Linked DNA regions of Homo sapiens. The protein of the gene in region 1 purifies or fractionates together with the protein of each later gene. This does not show direct contact. Each region holds a gene or a part of one and is shown on either strand. Other genes may lie near its edges.

Region 1 (7,031 bases):
AATCCCAGCTACCTGAGACGCTGAGGCAGGAGAATTGCTTGAAACCAGAAGGTGGAGGTTCCAGTGAACCAAGATCGCACCACTGCACTCCAGCCTGAGCGAAAGAGCAAAACTCCATCTCAAAAAAACAAACAATCAAACAAAAACCACATCCTTCCGAGCTAACAGGCAGAATTAAATAAAATTTTAATTTAATTTAAAAGCTGGCCAGGCGCAGTGGCTCACGCCTGTAATCCCAGCACTTTGGGAGGCTGAGGCGGGTGGATCACCTGAGGTCAGGAGTTTGAGACCAGCCTGACCACATGGAGAAACCCTGTCTCTACTAAAAATACAAAAAAATTAGCCAGGCATGTTGGCACATGCCTGTAATCCCAGCTACTAGGGAGGCTGAGGCAGGAGAATCACTTGAACCTGGGGGGCAGAGGTTGCAGTGAGCCGAGATCACGTGATTGCACTCCAGCCTGGGCAAGAAGAGTGAAACTCTGTCTCAAAAAAAATAAATAAAAGCTACTAGCCGGGCGCAGTGGCTCACGTCTGTAATCCCAGCACTTTGGGAGGCTGAAGTGGGTAGATCACTTGAGGCCAGGAGTTTGAGACCAGCCTGGCCAACATGGTGAAACCCCGTCTCCACTAAAAATACAAAAATTAGCTGGGCGTGGTGGTAGGTGCCAGTAATCCCAGATACTTGGGAGGCAGAGGCAGGAGAATCACTTGAACCTGGGAGGCAGAAGTTGCAGTGAGGCAAGATCATACCATTGCACTCCAGCCTGGGTGACAGAGCAAGACTCTGTCTCAAAAAATAAATAACTAAGTAAATAAATGTAAAAGCTACTAACATACTCAACTGAGAATGTTTCTGTAGAAAAATACAAATACATACATTAACGTCTCCCTGTGTTCATGTGAATTAAAGCAAAAGTGAATGTTGTGATTTCAAGCTACAAAAACATCCAACTGTAGAGACAAAATATATTCCACACCAATATAAAAAATGTTTATATTTAAGTCTATCACGCCTTCCTTGAACTAAGAATCAGTAGAGCCCAGTTGTAACTGTTCCTGATTACGCAACTAAGATGAGAGATTAAACGTGCTTCCGTCCTCATACACAGGCAGAAGTGAACTTGACCCACCATCGTAACAGGAGTCCAGGAAATAGACACTCTCTCCAACAGAAATGCGCCTCCCATCTCTCACTGCCCCGCCTGTCTCCCAGAGCCCTTACCATCTCTTGTCAGGTTCATGCCGCCAAACACCAGAGGACCAATAAACTGAGCCTTGATATCTCCTTCCAGGTAAACAAATATCGTGGGCAGATTCCTATCAGGATAATTGGGTATGCAGGTTGTTGAAATGGCTTTGATAAATTTGACATCAGGAAACTTCCTGGCAAGTCCACTGAGGTGCTGATTTATCAGGGCACAGAGGGGAATTCTATAAAACACACATAGAAAACAGAAGCAATTATGATCCTACATTTATACAGAACAAAGCTCAATGACCCTTCTACCCTAAGTAAAACCTTGTAACAGTTTCACAAGTAATTCTGCTGCTAGCTAAGATGAATTAACATGTTTTTTTTGACATAGGGTCTTGTTTTCACCCAGGCTAAATGGAGTGAAGTGGTGTGATCTCGGCTCACAAGCAATGCTCCCACCTCAGCCCCCCAAGTAGCACTTTGGGAGGCCAAGGTGAGTGGATCATGAGGTCAGCAGTTCAAGACCAGCCTGGCCAAGATCATGAGGTCAGGAGTTCAAGACCAGCCTGGCCAAGATGGTGAAACCCCATCTCTACTAAAAATACAAAAATTAGCTGGGTGCAGTGGCAGGCGCCTGTAATCCCAGCTACTCGGGAGGTGTGATTACAGGCACACACCACCATGCCCAGCTGATTTTTTTTTTTTTTTTTTGTAAAGACAGGGTTTCACCACGTTGCCCAGGCTGCTCTTGAACTCTTGAGCTCGAGATCCGGCCGCAATGGCTTCCCAAAGTGCTGGGATTACAGGTATTACAGGTGTAAGCCACCATGCCCAGCTGAATTAACATTTCTTAAAAACTTCCTAATATGCTGAGGGAAAGTGAAGAACACAAATCCAAAGTCCAATTTATTTGACAAAACAAGTCAGAAAAACAGCTTCAATGTAAAAGATAAAATTGCTATACATTTCTTATAAGGTTGAATGAGAAAACGCTGAAGGTTTAGAAAGTATGAAATGTCAGAAAACGTTTTCTGCTTTAAAGAAATTCCTGGCCAGGTGCAGCGGCTAACGCCTGTAATCCCAGCACTTTGGGAGGCCAAGATGAGTGGATCATGAGGTCAGGAGTTCAAGACCAGCCTGGCCAAGATGGTGAAACCCCGTCTCTACTAAAAATACAAAAATCAGCTGAGTGCGGTGGCAGGCGCCTGTAATCCCAGCTACTCAGGAGCAGAGGCAGGAGAATCGCTTGAACCTGGGAGACGGAGGTTGCAGTGAGCCGAGATCATGCCACTGCACTCCAGCCTGGTCAATGGAGTGAGACTTTGTCTCAAACAAAAAAAAAAAAAAAAAAGAAATTCCTAAATAAGCACTGGACTCTACAGTTTAAGACAAGACTGGAGAGCTGAGAAAAATCAGAGGCCCTCAGTATCACACAGTTCAGGCAATTACTACTGTAAAGGCCAACCTTGCCATCTATGAGATAAATTCATTACATAGAATGTTGAAATGTCAGAGTTCCTGTAAAGGAATAAATAACTTAGGAATTCCTTTTCAAAAACAGAAAAGCATAGTCTTCATTGCTATACTTTAACAAAGGCATTCATATTAGTCACAAATTATTAACTTGAAAGTCTTAAGATAAAAAAATTAAGTAATAAGGTTTGGGCAAACCAGCAAAAAAAACACAAAAAACTCAGTACCAGAAAAATTTTTTCTGAGACAAAGTCTCGCTCTGTCGCCCAGGCTGGAGTGCAGTGGCGCAATCTCGGCTCACTGCAAGCTCCGCCTCCCGGGTTCATGCCATTCTCCCACCTCAGCCTCCCAAGTAGCTGGGACTATAGGCGCCCGCGACCACGCCCAGCTAATTTTGTTTTTGTATTTTTAGTAGAGACGGGGTTTCATCGTGTCAGCCAGGATGGTCTTGATCTCCTGACCTCATGATCCACCTGCCTCAGCCTCCCAAAGTGCTGGGATTACAGGTGTGAGCTACTGCGCCTGGCCCAGAAAAAAAAATTTCTTAACCCTCTGATATAGGTAACGCCTGAGATCCTGAAGACATAAATTCAAATTAACATTTGATAGATGGAGTGGAAGATCAGCTCACCCTTGTTTGTAAAGGTGCAAGATGACCCACAAGCCCTCGCCAGCTTTGGTAACTTCTTGAACATAATCCTTCCCTGAGATCTCCAAAACTTCTCCGAATTTATTCTTCAGTTTAGTTGCTTTCCACTCAGCCAGTCTCCGCCGTCTGCACAAAACAAGGAGAGAAACATCTTACGTCACAAACACGTGTACACACACATCGTCTAGAAGGCAATCCTTGTAAAAGCCCAGGTTTATTTATTGGTCTTATGGCAAAAATCTAAGATCAGTTTGCTAAAATTCACAATATTATTTAATTGCAGTCGCTCCTAGATGTTTCAGCTGAAAATTAATTTTTTGAAGGACACACATTTCATTTTATTTTTTGAGACAGAGTTTGGCTCTGTCACACAGGCTGGAGTGCAGTGGCACAGTCTCAGCTCACTGCAACCTCCACTTCCAGGGCTCCTGAGTAGCTGGAACTATAGCCGTTCACCACCACACCCAGCTAGTTTTTGTATTATTTATAGAGACGGGGTTTCACAGGCTGGTCTCAAACTTCTGAGCTCAAGCGATCTGCCTGCCTCAGCCTCCCAAAGTGTTGGGACTACAGGTATGAGTCACCATGCTCAGCCCACACATTTTATTGCCACGCCAAAAAAAAAACCAAAACAAAACAAACAACAACAAAAAAACAAACAGCCCCTCTGGGTGGCGCTTACCTGTACATTTCAATAGCACGTTCATCCTCCTCATTAAACTCGTCTTCATGATCCTCCAGCTCTTCCAAAGTCATATCTTCATATGTTTTCACTGAATTTGGTTACATTGGCAAAAAGCAAAAATTTAAAAAGATGAACGAACATGTATTTTTCTTTTTTCCCCTCTCTTTTCTCCTAAAGATATGCACACAACACCAGATCCTTAGCCTACCTAAACAAAAATTACTTAAGGCACCACACTACATTAGAAGCTGAGAGGCCAGGCATGGTGGCTCACACCTGTAATCCCAATTTATTGACTGACAACATTTTACCCAAGCCCTCAGATCCTCCTCCCCTCTCTTCTCCTATTCCGCCTCACCCTGCCCCGCTTATTTTCCTTTTTTTGGAGACAGAGTTTCACTCTTGTCATCCAGGCTGGAGTGCAATGGTGCGATCTTGACTCACTGAGAACCTCCGCCTCCCAGATTCAAGCAATTCTCCTGCCTCAGCCTCCTGAGTAGCTGGGATTACAGGCGTGTGCCACCACACCCAGCTAATTTTTGTATCATTAATAGAGACAGGGTTTCACCATGTTGGCCAAGCTGGTCTTGAACCTTCTGACCTCAAGTGATCTGCCCATCTCAAAGTGCTGGGATTACAGGAGTGAGCCAGCCGCCCTACTGTTGAACCCTTTGCTGATTAAAATTCCCCAGGCTCAAACCTTTGACTACTTTTCTTCTTTATCCACACCCACTCCCTCGGTGATTGCATCTAATCTCATGGCTTTCAGTGCTATCAATATGCTGACAACTCCCAAAGTATAGGCCTCCAGCCCAGACTTCTCTAATGTAGAGAAAAACATACCCAAGGGCCCTCTTAATGTGGCTATTTGTCTAATAGGGATCTCCAAGTTAATGCATCCCTTGGCTGGGTGCAGTGGCTCACGCCTATAATCCCAGCTCTTTGGGAGGCTGAGGTGGGCGGATCACTAGAGGTCAGGAGTTTGAGACCAGCCTGGCCAACATGGTGAAACCTCATCGCTACAAAAAATTACCTAGGCGTGGTGGCACATGTCTGTAATCCCAGCTACTCGGGAGGCTGACGCAGGAGAATCGCTTGAACCTGGGAGGCGGAGGTTGCAGTGAGCCAAGATTGCGCCACTGCAGTCCAGCCTGGGTAAGAGAGCGAGACTCCATCTCAAAAAAAAAACAAAAAAGAGAAAATGTCACTCTTCTGTTTAAACATCCAAAAGCTTCCTGCCTCATTAGGTGTAAAGGCCAAGGTCCTTACTAGAAGCTTCTGGGTCTGCTGAGGCTGCTCTGAACTCTCTCCCCCAGCGCCTCCAGCTCCTCAGGGATTCCCAGCCATGCCAGGGCCCATATTTCACTCGCTCACGTCACCCCCTTCAGGAATACCCAGATGTCTTCTTCACCTCCTTCAGGTCTCAACAACTCCCTCAGGTCTATTCAAATGTGTTCTTCAGCTCCTTCAGGTCTTTACCCAAATGCCAGCTTCACCTCCTTCAGGTCCATGCAAATGTCATCTCAGTGAGGCCCTCTCTGAGCCTGCTTCTCCTCCAACCCTTTCTAGTCCCTTTTACTGCCTTATTTTCTTTATTGTTTATTGTCTGTCTCCCCCACTTGAATGTTGGTTCTCTGAGGGCAGAGAATTGTCTCTGGCTTATGCATAGCTAAATCCCCAACCCCAGAAAAGCACCTGACAATGATAATCATGCAGTAAGCACTCGCTGGATACTTTCTAATAAATCCTTCTCTAAATTAGCTCTAATGTGTCAACAGAGGACAAAAGTACTAGTCCCTGGGACCAGTGCTTCTCAAACTATGACACGCATCAGAATCCTTTAAGGCACTTGTTTAAAATGCAGATTCCTGGGCCTCATTCCAGAGACTGCTTCAGTAAACACTAGGTGGGTGGGGTTACCAGCACTCCAAGGGACTCCAATTCAGACAGTACAACTGCCTTTGAGAAAACCCCCCTCAGACTCCCACACATTGCAAACATCTTATGCCTCCCCAAATGAAGCAATTTTTAGTTAATATCCTCAATGAAACCACAGAAAATAAAGTATATGCTCAGGAAAATACAAGTACTAAAAACCTTGAACAAATTTCCATGACATTATCAAAGGGAATCACAGACCAGAAAGCAGAAAGAAGTATTTTCTTCAGTGCTCATGTGACATGGACAAGGACTTGTGGGACATATCTGAAGTCCCCTAAGTCTATGGCTCAGGAAGGTGAAGGTGAGAGACGCCCTGTGTTTTGTCTGAGGTCCCACAGACACAGAGTGTCCATGCTGGCACTCCAACCTGTCTCCTGGCAGGGCAGTCAGAGGCTTAGGGAGCCATCTCCTAACCCAGACAGGTGCAGAGGAAAGCGAGTGAACTCACCCACTGACTGCTGGAGGATGCGCTGCTCCTCTTCTGCCTCCTCTTCCAATTCTTTCAGACTTTCCTTGGGGGGTAAGATACCCTTTTTGCGTAAGATGTCATTCCATTCAGTGTCTGCGTTGGGGTCCTAGAAGAGCGGGACCAAGGTTACCATGAGTGCTAAGTCTAGTATGTAGGGTGCCACGTTGGGCAAGGGGCCAAATGGGAAAAGTGACAGGAAGGGAGGAATGCACACCAGTCTGTGAACTATTTCTGAGAAAGTGTCAAAAGATCCATAGCCCCCGTTTTGTTTTTCCTGTCTACCCCTCCCTGAATGGAGGAGCTATTCTTGGGGTAAAAATTAGGATAGGGAGTGCAGATCAGTATCAATACGGATACCAAGGCTCTGACTTGGCATGTGTTCAATATTTTTAATAATGACTGAGAGTGCCGGGCACAGTGGCTCACGCCTGTAATCCCAGCACTTTGGGAGGCTGAGGCAGGCGGATCACGAGGTCAGGAGATAGAGACCATCCTGACTAACACGGTGAAACCCCGTCTCTACTGAAAATACAAAAAATTAGCCGAGCGTGGTGGCGGGCACCTGTAGTCCCAGCTACTTGGGAGGCTGAGGCAGGAGAATGGCATAAACCCGGGA
Region 2 (7,031 bases), about 27 Mb from region 1:
TGCTCTGTGGGCTGGGACACAGCCAAGGGTCTGGCAGGAGCCAAACAGCCCCAGGCACATAGAGGGATTGCAGCATGCTTCTGCATCCAATTTGGCCACAGGAAGTCAGTCAAGGTTCTGACAAAGGCCTGACACGGTGACTCACACCTGTAATCCCAGCACTTTGGGAGTCGCAGGTGGGAGATCACTTGAGCCAGTAGTTCAAGACTAGCCTGGGCAATACAGCAAGGCTCCGTCTCTTTAAAAAAAAAAAAAAAAACCCACTACAGACTTACACTTTATCTGCCTTCTTCACGGTCACAGCAATCTCTTTGATCTTGTTAACTGCCTGCCAAGAACAGAAGTTGAATGAGTCTCTCATGCTAAAGACAAACTGCTGAAGTGGACCTCAATCTCTCAATAGTCCTGAGTCTGTTCACTCCCAAATCCTAAGCATTTCTACTCTACAGCTGAAAAAACACTTCTAGGTCTTGTAACTGCTCAGAAAAATGTAAAACTCTATAGTTCAGAAAATTCCAAGTCAGAAATGCAGAGTGGGTATACAGTTCTGAAGAATCAGGGTGCTTCCAAGATTTTGCTCTGGGTCTGCAGGTAACACGCTACAACGAATGAGTGGAAACAGCTGTGACACGAGATTAAGCCAAACCTCCTGGTTTACTAAAAACACCTACGACAACTTCTAGCACTTTATATATTAGTTATATATAAAATATGCATACAAATATATAAACTTTTTATTTTTTTCCAAAGTACTCCTCATATATTATTTCATTTTAATGTCACCACTCAAATTAGAGATAGCAAAGAAAGTAAGGCCTAGAAAGATTAAATGACTTGCCCCAGATCACAAATGAAGGTTAGAGGGCAAATAATAGCTAGGTCTCAATATACACCATGAGGTGCTTGAGTATAGCATGTAGTAGTAGTATGCCATGAGTCTCTTAGTCCTTACTAAAAGACTATGTCTACATCATAGTCTACCAGGCTGACTCTAACCTGAGGCTTAAAGAGATTAAGTAATACACCTCATCAAATGGCTACAGATTAGTAGAACTGAGATTACTAAGGAGATGTCAGAAAATGCCCAAAGTACCCTGTTCCCCAGTCCCTCCACACTCCTGAAAAGAAATTCCCCTTCCTAAGAGAAATGTGAAGGTGTCCAGGCCCAAGAGAAGGTTAATCAGTACTGCCATACCAGCTGGGTGGCTGTGCGGAAAGCTCGAATGATGATCTGGGGGTGTAAACCTTCCTCCACATAGGGTTTCACCTGCTTCAGAAACTCTGCAGCCAGCAAGGTCACTGAGGTGGTGCCATCACCCACCTGGAAGATGATGACAGGAAATACACGTTTTCTGATGTTCAGGGAATAAAGCCCTGAAACTCCATTTTTAGGCACGCTACCCATTTAAACTGAATATTATTTAAATGGATGTCAAGCTTTTTTCTGGAAGCACAGGTTTTTGCAATAAGTAGAAAGAAGCTAATGGTAGTTACATATCCATCATGTCAAACAGTCCTGGGCTACCAAATTAATTCCCCAGACAGCCCCATTCTCTAAAGAGGGCTGATGTGGACAATCAAATGTCCTCAGGGTAAAAAATTACACACATGAACTGAGAACTTATGTTACGTACAAGGCATTGTGATGAATAAAACAGTCCTTGTCATGCTTATTGTAATACAATACTTAAAATAATCATGGTACCAAGAAGCAAGAGACAAACATTGTTTAAGAAGCAAAAGGTGGCTGGGCACGGTGGCTCACACCTGTAATCTCAGCACTTTGGGAGGCTGAGGCAGGTGGATCACCTGAGGTCAGGAGTTCAAGACCAGCCTGGACAACACGGTGAAACCCTGTCTCTACTAAAAATACAAAAATTAGCTGGGCGTGATGGCGGGCGCCTGTAATCCCAGCTACTCAGGAGGCTGAGGCAGGAGAATTGCTTGAACCTGGGAGGCAGAGGTTGCAGTGAGCCAAGATCGCACCACAGCACTCCAGCCTGGGCGACAGAGTGAGACTCCGTCTCAAGAAGCAAAAGGTACTGCAGGAGTTCCTTTCTTTTTTAATAGAGAAAGGGTCTCCCTATGTTGTCTAGACTGGTTTTGAACTCCTGGCCTCAAGCAATCCTCCCACCTCGGCCTCCCAAAGTGCTAGAATTACAGGCATGAGCCACTGCATCTGGCCAGGAGTTAAAAAAAAAAAAAGGTAACTTTCAGTCAAATCACACTAAAACAAACGTCCTAGGACCAGCCAAAGTTCTTTATATTTCAAAAACTATGAGGAGGCCAGGCACGGTGGCTCATGCCTGTAATCCCAGCACTTGGGGAGGCCGAGGCGGGCTGATCACCTGAGGTCAGGAGTTCGAGACCAGCCTGGCCAACATGGTGAAACCCCGTCTCTACCAAAAATACAAAAATTACCCGGGCGTGGTGGTGGGTGCCTGCAATCTCAGCTACTCGGGAGGCTGAGGCAAGAGAATTGCTTGATCCCAGGAGGCGGAGGTTGCAGTGAGCCAAGATCACACCATTGCACTCCAGCCTGGGCAACAAGAATGAAACCCCCTCTCAAAAGAAAAAAAAAAAAAACTACTGGGAATAAGCAGATTACTAGTCTGCTAATCTTTTTTAGATGGTGCTTTTCTGTGATGGGATCTAAATCCTATTTAATGAGGGTGAAAAAGAAAAAGAGCTTTCTAAGAAAATTGGATAAACTCTAAACTGGAAGAAATTTATTTCGGTAGAGATGGGGTCGTGCTGTATTGCCCAGGCTGATCTCAAACTCCTGGACTGAAGGGATCCTCCCACCTTGGCCTCCTAAAGTAATGAGACACAAGCATGAGCCACCATGCTCAGCCCAGAAATTTATTTTTAACTTCATGTATGTTCACTGTGTAAGGTAAGAAATTCTCAAGGGGCAAAAAAAAAAAGGTTACTATAGAGAAGGTTTAAGTGGGCAGATTTCTGGACCAAAAGGCATTATTCCCTCGTTGAAGACAAAAACAAATCAAATCCAGACTCTTCTCTCTTTAATTTTATATATGCTATACCTGTTTTATAGGCTTGGCTCCTAATAAACCTTTTAACGTAACTTCAAGACATACCTGTAGTATACATATTTTGCAGTACTCTAAAATACAAAACCTATCTGTCAACACATTTATTAATACTCCAGTGTTAGAATTTATTTTTAAAAGATAGACTGGTTAATGCCATGAATTATACACTTAAACATGGTATTAAGAATAAATATTATGTCTGTTTTATCATCAGTTTAAAAAAAAAAAAAAAAAAGCCTGGTGTAGTGGGGAATGCCAGTAGTTCCAACGACTAAGGAAGCTGAGGTGAGAGAAGGCTTGAGCCCCGGAGTTCAAGGCCAACCTGGGAAACATAGTAAGACCCTATCTCTTTAAAAAAAAAAAAAAAAGAAAGAAAGGCAGATTGGAAGTCTTAGTTTACAGCCCCATTTTGTAAGAGATGAGAAGTCAAATTATTTAACCTAGCAACTCACACAAATGACAGCACACAACCTGTTAAGATCTCAGGCAGTAGACTTATATCTAAAGACTGTTGTCATTCACCAATGTATTAATGGATATGAAAAGCTACATGTAACGAAATAGTATGAATTTTAAAAGGCTGTTAATTCTAAATACTTTTATAAGCATGTATTACTTGTACAATTATAATTATATAAAATCTTAAAAAAATTTAATAGAGGAGAACTAAGGAGCAAGCAAGCATGTGTTTCAACCTCCATTTAAACACACAACTATTTTCCTACCTCAGCATCTTGGGATTTGGCAATGTCTACCAAAGTCTTTGCTGCAGGATGGACAACATCAAGAAGTTTCAGAATTGTGGCCCCATCATTAGAAATTGTTGCTTTGCCTTAAAAGAAACAAACAAAAATCTAAAGCCCCTTTCTTAAATGCTGTCTTCAAGTGGGACCTAGAACCCATCTACACTTTACTGGGATGGGGCAGAGGGGATCACGGCAGGGCTGAAGGGAAAGGATACCTATCTGATCTTTCTATACAGAATTAGCTCTGTACACAAAGGGTCTAAAATCACAAGCTTTTGCAGACCACAGACTCCCAATTTTCCTTGAAGAGCAATTAATACAGGTCAACTGGATACAGAAAAGATTTTTTAAATAAAAGTAACCACTTAGATATTCTTACCACAGTTGATACCCTCACACATCAATTAATATACCAAGATATAAACAGGAATTTTCTCATCTTGATAACAATGGAAGTGAACACAGGAAACTCCAGATGGTTCTATTTCATGTTTCTAGGCCACGTCTCCCTATGAGGCAACAGGCTCCTGAGCCTAGGTTCTCTCATATAGTCCCACACGGGCTCAGCAGTCAGGACAATATAAGAATTGGAACTGCTTCAGAGTGAGTCATCTTTCAACGATCTTAAAAGCAGTGGGATTTCTGATACCAACCTATGCTAGTCCCAAACACCCCCTCAGGAGCCTCCTTTCCTGCACACAGGCCTGAGGAACTCTGTAGACTTACCTCTGCCATCTACAATAAGCTTGTCCATGCCACGGGGACCCAGGGTAGTTCTTACAGCCTCAGCAATCACCTGGCAGGCACTGATGTTACTCACAAGCTGGGGGATGCCTTGGGAGCTATCAGTCCCCTCTTTCAATAGGATAACTGGTGTGGGCTAGAAAAGAAAGAAATTAACTGCTTTTAATAATCATCTATTATAATGAGACTGGCAGGGGAAAGGGGAAAATGCTCCCATCTCTCCCTTAACAGAATTATCTAGAGGTCTTCTTAAACCACATTCCCCCAACTGTCTACCACATCCATTCCCCAACCAGCCTCTACCTCCAGAGACACTATCAAATTTAGCCTACCCTGCAGGTATGCTAGACAGGAAAATGGTTTGAGAAGCACTGACCTAATCTAAAAGAAAAAATCATGAGTTCTCCAGTACCCAGCTGAATGACCATGGCCTTTTCAACTTCTGACCTTACTCCCTGTGCTGAGGAATTGGGTCACAACACAGGAGGAAGAGGCAGACCCTGCTAAGTGTTCATTCCGCAGCAAAACATCCACTTGTCTGTGTTACAGCTCAATCTTAGAGAAGCAGATGGGACACTGATGCAAAATGCAAGATGCCAAGAGCTTGAGGTGTTGTCCTAGAGATGCCTAGGCAGTCAGCTTTATGTAACAGTGATGTTCAGCTGCAGTGTAGGAAAACAGGCAGAGAAACAAACAGCACCTTTGCCCTGTTTTGAAAAATGATGGCAAATCTAATTCATACAGCAATGTTTCCATCTCTCATGCTGGCTGAATAAAGCTTCTGTGTGACTAATTTCCAATCAGATACCCCAAAGAAGTTTTCCTCTTTCTATATTGCATTGGTCTCCAGAACATTCCCTATCCCCGTAAGGGCTTCATTTGCAGACCTGCTTTAGAAACTGAGAAACAGGGATACTTGCTTGTTTTAAAGGGCCCGCTCAGATATCTTTGCTCTAGTGACCACCATTATTAGCAGAGAGAGCAATTTCTCAGCTTAGCAAACCAGACTACTTTCTCTCCACATTCAAATCTGAGCCTTCAGAGATAAGCCCACGAACTAGATCCAGTCTTCTCAAGTGTTTCTGGCTAATTTTGTGTGTGACACAGAATGTAGTAAGGATAAATACTATTTCAAAACTTTTATTGTGTTAAATTTGTTACTAGGCTATGATTAAAAATGTATTTCTTACTGTGGAATGCAATAAAAAGTTTGAAAGCCATCACCTAGTCCTTAGAGGTACGTGGATGTCTGAGCAAGGAAGGCACAGGAAAGCACAGAGCTTTCCCAACCTAACAATGAGGAGTGAGGAATTCCTGCCAAAGACAGAGTCTTGCCACTCATGAGGCTGATTCCTTATTAACTGGTCAATTCCTTAAAAAGTTCAACTCTTTTGGCCAGCGCAGCTGGAGGGTAGTAAGCAAGAGGAAGACTGGAATAAAGCTGAAGAGGCAGGCAGGAACCAGATCACATACACACTCGTAGACACACTATGGTGAGGAGTTCAGATTTCATTCCTAAAAAGGAAAGCCCTGGGAAGCTTTCAGCAGAGGAATGGCATACTGTGATTTACATAAAAAACAAAAACCACTGTAGAAAAAAGAGGATCACTTGAGCTCATGGAGTTCAAGACCAGCCTGGGGAACATGGCAAGACCCTGTCTCTACAAAAAGAAAACGAAAAATACCCAATAAACTCTACGGAATAAGAGAGTGGGAGTAATTTAATATATTATTCATTTTTTAATATATATTTCTAAGAGACAGGGTCTTGCTCCACCACCCATGCTGGAGTGCAGTGGTGAGATCATAGCTTACTATAAGCTCAAGCCTCCTGAGTAGCTGGACCGCAATGCATGAGGTACCACACCTGGCTAATTTTTTAAATTTGTATTTAAAAAATGTTGCCCAGGCTGGTCTCCAACTCCTGGCCTCTAACAACCCTCCTGCCTCAGCCTTCTGAAGTGCTAGGATTACAGGCATGAGGCACCATGCCAGGCCCTCATTAAATTTTTTTAAATGCTTGTCAAATAATCATACATTACTCCTTTTATTTTTTATTTTAAAAAGAATGCTTGTCATGTAAACCCCTACATTTGGGATCAGGCGTCAACTGAAGGGAAAATTCCTTCCTTTTGCTGGAGTGTCCCAGGTCTGGTGGCAAGAAATGGCTTCTCTATACTCCCAGCATTCTTTCTGGCTCTTCAGCTGGCCCAGTCCCTGGCACCTTCTGTAAGGGAAAGATGTGTGTCCTGAAAGGCCCTACCATCTCCCAGTCTTGCTAAATCATTCCTTATGGCAGCCCCAAGTCTTCTCTGGTCCACCCCTGCCACGGATGGAGTCTTACACTTTAAATCAAAAACTAACATGAGTCTCAATCACTTCCTATCACCTTCAACAGGTTCTTTCACCTCAACAGGTTAACTTACCCAATGCTTGTGTATACTTTTTCTCACCTCAACCTGCAAAGTGTACCCCCATCTAAAAT
Region 3 (5,637 bases), 2.9 Mb from region 1:
GAGCAGGGTGCACAAGGGAGCCCCGACCCAGCTTCCTGGGGTTGTCCTCCCTCAGTCTGTGGATGGTGACGGCAGCCCTGCCCCACCGAAGTCAGGAGCGTGGGCTGAGTCACTGTGGCTGCAGGAAGCCGACCCTCTGCAAGGGCTGGGCCATGGAGGGCTGGGTTCTGGCGCTCAGACATGCAGCTGTCTCTGCTGACCGTGCCTTCTGACCCTGAGCTTCTCGTCCTGCCTAGGCCCCCTCTCTAGCCCCGAACCCCATAGGCCCCAGTTCCAACCTGTGCCCCCCAGCCACATCCTGGTGTTTGGAGGCCAGGTACCCTCTGGGCGACTATGGTTGGATTTCGGTTTTTCTGGACACAAGCTCTGCCATGCTCCCTGCCCACCTTGCTGACGTTATCCGTCCTAACAGTGTCGGGCGGCCGAAGCACATGCGGGTGATGGCTGGAGCCCTGGAGGGGGACCTCTTCATCGGACCAAAAGCAGAGGTAACACCGAGGAGCCTGCCTTTCCCTGGGGGTGGGGTCCTCAGTTGCAGGAACATGGCATGTGTTCTTGGGCCTCTGCTGGTGACCTCCCGGGTACCTCCTCCAGGCTCCAGCTGGGAAGTGCTGTGCAGGGGCACCTCCCCCTGAGATGGGGCAGCAGTTCCTCTTCTAGGGAGCATGGGTAGAGCTCATCGTGTCCTGTCTTTTAGAAGCTATTTGGAAGCTACAGAACCAAGAACTGATCAAAAAGTGATATAAGAGTCAGAATCACACACACTTCACGTCTGCTCTAATGAGGGCCATGGGGCCGCCTCTCACAGTGAAGCCGGAGTGTCCCACCAAGGGGCTGCATGGCCTGATCAGACCCTCAGGAGAGCATGTGTGGGTGTGGGGAGAGCAGCAAGCTGAGCTTGGCCAAGGGCAGTTTAGGCGCCTGAGGAGCATTGTGTCGGGTGCCGGGGCGTGGGGCATGCGTGGTTCTGGGCCCAGAAAGGGGAGGCCTGAGCTGGAGGTGCAGAGGGTGGGGGTCTCGCAGATGGGGTCCGTAGGAGCCGAGGTGGTGAGAGGAGCTAAGTGGTGCTAGGTGAGAAGGGGCATGGCTGGGGGGACATCGAAGGGCAGGTGGAGGCAGCATGTCAGTGCAAACAGGGGACTGGTGAGGACCGGCCAAAGGGCTGGGGGGAGAGGCGTAGGTCAGGGGGCACAGGTGGCCCAGGAGGGGCCGTGTTGGGCGGCTGCAAGGTGCCGGCGCTGGCCAGAGGGGAGCTGGCAGAGTGTGAGGAGAATGTGGGGGATGTGCCGGCAGTGAGAATGGGGAAGAAGAGAGCCTGCAGATTGCGGGGCACACTGCCACCCTCTCTGATCCCCCCAGCTGAAGCTAGCTGGGCTCTAAGAGCCTAAGAAGCTGGTGGGCAGGTGAGCCCATGCTGAGTTCAGGACCCGCCACAGACCCTGGGACACCCAGTGAGCAGGGGTGGTTCTGGTCAGGGCAGGTGAGGTTCTGGTCAGGGCAGGTGAGGGTCAGCTTCCAGGAGGGCGGAAAGCAGCCGCTGAGCAAGGGCCGGGTGCCACACCTCCCTTCCCACCCCACCAGGAGCACCGGGGGCTGCTGACCATCCGCTACCCCATGGAGCACGGCGTGGTGCGAGACTGGAACGACATGGAACGCATCTGGCAGTACGTCTACTCCAAGGATCAGCTGCAGACCTTCTCGGAGGAGGTGTGGCGGCTGCCCCTCCTGCATGCTCTGCATTCTCCTGGCCATGCCCCTCTCCTCTGCGTCCCTCCTCGCCGGGCTCCCACATTTCCCTTCTACATTTCTAGAGGGCCTGCTGCCTTTCCGTGTGTGTCTGGGTGCGCATACGTACCCAGTGGCTGCTAGGCAGAATCTTCCAAAGAGAGCCGGATCTCCGGAAGAGTAACTGCCAGCAGATAAAGGGATGGGGCCCTCAGGAGGGGTAGGAGGCTGAGCTGCCTGTGCGCCAGCGGGTGTGGTTCTCTGGAAAGAGCCTTTTAGGGCCTTGCAAGTTGCCTCCTCTGATGCCTACAACTGTCCCGTCCCTCGCAGCATCCTGTGCTCCTCACGGAGGCCCCGCTCAACCCGAGTAAGAACCGGGAGAAGGCGGCAGAGGTGTTCTTTGAGACCTTCAACGTGCCGGCCCTGTTCATCTCCATGCAGGCTGTGCTCAGTCTGTGAGTGCTCCCTAAGCCTGGCCTCCCTGAGTCCTGTCCTCCCTGTGCCGTCCTGCTTGCCATGACCAGGGTCTGACTTCCCTGGAAAAACAGCCCCTTGATGACTGTTCCTCTAGGGAGTCCCTCGTGTCCTCTCTTCAGACTAGATAATGCAGATGTGCCAGGGTTCCTCCCCTGGGTGAGGAGGTCCCCGTGCCTCAGTGGCTGAGGTGAGGGGATGCTGACCTGGTGACAGGTACGCAACAGGACGCACGACAGGAGTGGTTCTAGACTCAGGGGACGGGGTCACTCATGCTGTGCCCATCTATGAGGGCTTTGCCATGCCTCACTCCATCATGCGGGTGGACATTGCCGGCCGCGACGTCTCCCGCTACCTCCGACTCCTGCTGCGCAAGGAAGGGGTTGACTTCCATACCTCGGCTGAGTTTGAGGTTGTCCGGACAATCAAAGAGGTGACAAGGGGCGAGAGGGTGTGGACACGACCTGGGGTGAGGAAAGGGTGGCACCAAGGCACAGGTGTCCCAGGTGCAGCCTTCTGAGGGCTGTGTCCCTGTCCCCGCAGCGAGCGTGCTACCTGTCCATCAACCCACAGAAGGATGAGGCTCTGGAGACGGAGAAGGTGCAGTACACGTTGCCAGACGGCAGCACGCTTGATGTAAGTGGCCGGGCCTGGCACTGGAGTGGCAGCCGATGCCCAGCCTGGGGGAAGGGGTAGCCCGCTTCTCCAGGAAGCCTGTCTGCCTCAATCTTGTACACTAAAGGTGGGGCCTGCACGATTCCGGGCCCCCGAGCTGCTGTTCCAGCCGGACCTTGTCGGGGATGAGAGTGAGGGGCTCCATGAGGTGGTGGCCTTCGCCATACACAAGTCCGACATGGACCTGCGCCGGACGCTGTTCGCCAACATCGTGCTCTCAGGTGGCTCAACGCTTTTCAAAGGTACTGTGGCTTGAGAGTTGGTGGTGGTGAGACGAGGCCCAGGGCAGCTGGACCCTCAGAGAGTATACCCCTACCCAGAGCCATATTCTGTTGGCTTTTTGGTGGTGCTCAATGAACATTTTTTTTAACAGACCAAAATTTAAAATTAAATTTTGTTTACTCTGTGAATAGAGGAGAAGTTTACACAAGCTCTAAAGTGTATTGTGAGAGTCGAGCAAGGAGCATGTGCGGCTTCATCTCACGCTGCCTCTGTGAGGACGCAGGGCCCGCAGGCAGCCATGGGGCTGGATCATTTCTCAGCCTTGCCCTTCATCCTGGGAAGAGCTGCTGATAGAGGACCAGCAGTAGCTGGGGGCCCTGAAGGCTGGGTGCGGGAGCTAGCAGCGAGGAGGCCGGGTGCAGACCCCAGGCTCAGCCAGCTTTGTGTTCACAGGCTTCGGAGACCGATTACTCAGTGAAGTGAAGAAGCTTGCCCCAAAGGATATCAAAATCAAGGTGAGGTTACAGAAACTCCCCCTGGGGCACTAGGGCGCTGGCAGCCTTGGCATGGGGAGGAAGGTTGAATGCTGCCCCCAGACCCGCTCACCAGCTCACGTCCACCTAGTCCTGTTCTTCCCAAGGCTGCTGCTGCCACTCCCCAGCTTATGCCTTTGCTGTCAGGCTTCAGGACCTGGGGAAGGTGACCCCAAGGCTGGGAGGATGGCTTCTGGGTGGGGATCCACAGTTAACGTGGCCACTTCCTCCTTCTAGATCTCAGCCCCGCAGGAACGGCTGTACTCCACATGGATTGGGTGAGGCGGGGCTCAAGGGAGGGCTCTGGGAGGAGACCACTTTACCCTGGATGCTCCTCCCATTGTTGGCCTAGGCCACGTGGAGGTGGGTGGATTTCCCTCCCAAATTAGGGAAATGCAACTCTGAGCACCCAGGAAGGTGGTTGGCTCCCTGACAGGTCCACAGCAATACTATCCCTCCATCCCCACAGCGGCTCCATCCTGGCCTCGCTGGACACTTTTAAGAAGATGTGGGTGTCCAAAAAGGAGTATGAAGAGGATGGCTCCCGTGCTATTCATCGCAAAACTTTCTAGTGCCCAAGGAGGGCGGGGCATGTTGGGAGAGGGGGAGGGAGGGGAGACAGAGCCTTTAACCCTTTTTGGTCTTGGCTCGTATACTAGGCTTAGGGTCCCCTGCATGCCCTGAACCCCTGGGTGGGTGGCACAGCAGTGCCCCCCTGCAGCCTTCCCCTCTACACAGGACATGCACACACAAGTAACATTGAGCTGCATGGACAGGAGCCTTGAGCTGGCGTGTGGGAATTGAGCGCCATGTCAGGCTGTTGTGGGTATCCCCCTGGCAGGGCCAGCTAGGCCTGTGGTTCCCTGCTCCGACTCTCAGGGCTGCCTCCCTGAGCTCCAGGGCCAGAATGCCTGGATGCCTGGGTAGCCAGTTTGGGGAGTGGGCTGCAAGGGGCAGCCAGCAGCTCCCACTGGTGTGTCACTGCATCCATTGCCACCTCCTGTTCGTGACCTGACAGGGTGACACAGCCCCTTTCACACTCTGTCCTCCTATCTTCCTGGGTAGATGCCCTGGTGTAGGGCTGAGTACTGAATGGTCTTCCATCCCCAGCAAGGGGGTGCAGCCCAGGGTCAGGCCCTTCAGAGCCAGGGCAGAGGATGCACGGTGGCTAGAGCCGCTGCACTATCCTTTTCAGAGCACTTCATCCACTTGCTCCTCCCTCTACCCTCGGCACCCTGGGTGGGAAAGGGTTGATGCTCATCATTTATTGAGGGGAAGCCACTTAATAAGGAGTCAGACCTAAAAGGGGGTGGGGGACATTTTCTTACCTCACCCAAGAAAGAGGTCGTCACTTTTGCTGTGGCCAGGGCCCCACCTCCCTCTCTCAGATATGTACAATAATTTAACACGGTTGCCTGAAAAAAACTTTTGTAAATCATTATAGTAATAATTATGGACAAGGCCCAGTGTGTGGCTCTGTTTTCTTGTGGCTCTCTGTGCTATCGTTTGTTCTTCCATCCCTGGGGACTTTCAGAGAAAGGACCAGAGAGAATGCAGCAAGGCACTGGCTCTAGCTTAGCGGCATGAAGGTTTCAGTGGTTGGCCCGCCAACGTGGCACAAAAAGCCTCAGGAGGCTGGGCTCTCACCCTGTAGCATAATTCCCTCGCCTGTTACCTCCCCTGCTGCAGTCCACCAGGGGAAGTAGAACCAGGCTACCTTCTTTGCCCCCGGACCCTGGACAGGCCTATTTGAGCACCTCTGCTCACCCCATTCAGCCAGGGCTAAGGCTGGTGGACACCAGCAATGATGCAAGCTCACGCCTTCAGACAAGTCAGGATGGGGAAGGCAGGGAGAGGCAGAGAGGCTGTGAGCTTAGCCAGGCCCTAGAGGAATAGGCAGAAGAGCAGTGAGGAATTAGGGTTTGGAGAATGTCTGCTCTTTACTTTCTTAAGTGTTTGAGAACCTACAGTGTTTCCAGGATGGTGCCGTGTGTTTGGGGCCAATGGT

What was found. Proteins that work in one complex are often made in the same cells at the same time.
Region 2: the proteins of PDCL3 (region 1) and CCT7 purify together in Homo sapiens (co-immunoprecipitation; 5 studies listed by BioGRID and IntAct, with this or other methods). This does not show direct contact.
Region 3: the proteins of PDCL3 (region 1) and ACTR1B purify together in Homo sapiens (affinity purification with mass spectrometry; 4 studies listed by BioGRID and IntAct, with this or other methods). This does not show direct contact.

Annotation. Positions count from the first base shown.
Region 1 is NC_000002.12:100,565,993-100,573,023, reverse strand, and holds part of PDCL3 (phosducin-like protein 3), read right to left. Parts: intron 6,522-7,031; coding exon 6,395-6,521; intron 4,094-6,394; coding exon 4,003-4,093; intron 3,447-4,002; coding exon 3,303-3,446; intron 1,435-3,302; coding exon 1,226-1,434; intron 1-1,225. UniProt on the Homo sapiens protein: Acts as a chaperone for the angiogenic VEGF receptor KDR/VEGFR2, increasing its abundance by inhibiting its ubiquitination and degradation.
Region 2 is NC_000002.12:73,237,294-73,244,324, reverse strand, and holds part of CCT7 (T-complex protein 1 subunit eta), read right to left. Parts: intron 4,683-7,031; coding exon 4,529-4,682; intron 3,889-4,528; coding exon 3,782-3,888; intron 1,322-3,781; coding exon 1,196-1,321; intron 329-1,195; coding exon 276-328; intron 1-275. UniProt on the Homo sapiens protein: Component of the chaperonin-containing T-complex (TRiC), a molecular chaperone complex that assists the folding of actin, tubulin and other proteins upon ATP hydrolysis.
Region 3 is NC_000002.12:97,655,422-97,661,058, reverse strand, and holds the end of ACTR1B (beta-centractin), read left to right. Parts: intron 1-412; coding exon 413-488; intron 489-1,581; coding exon 1,582-1,707; intron 1,708-2,055; coding exon 2,056-2,180; intron 2,181-2,415; coding exon 2,416-2,632; intron 2,633-2,742; coding exon 2,743-2,835; intron 2,836-2,941; coding exon 2,942-3,116; intron 3,117-3,549; coding exon 3,550-3,611; intron 3,612-3,866; coding exon 3,867-3,907; intron 3,908-4,098; coding exon 4,099-4,201; 3' UTR 4,202-5,120; downstream 5,121-5,637. UniProt on the Homo sapiens protein: Component of a multi-subunit complex involved in microtubule based vesicle motility. It is associated with the centrosome.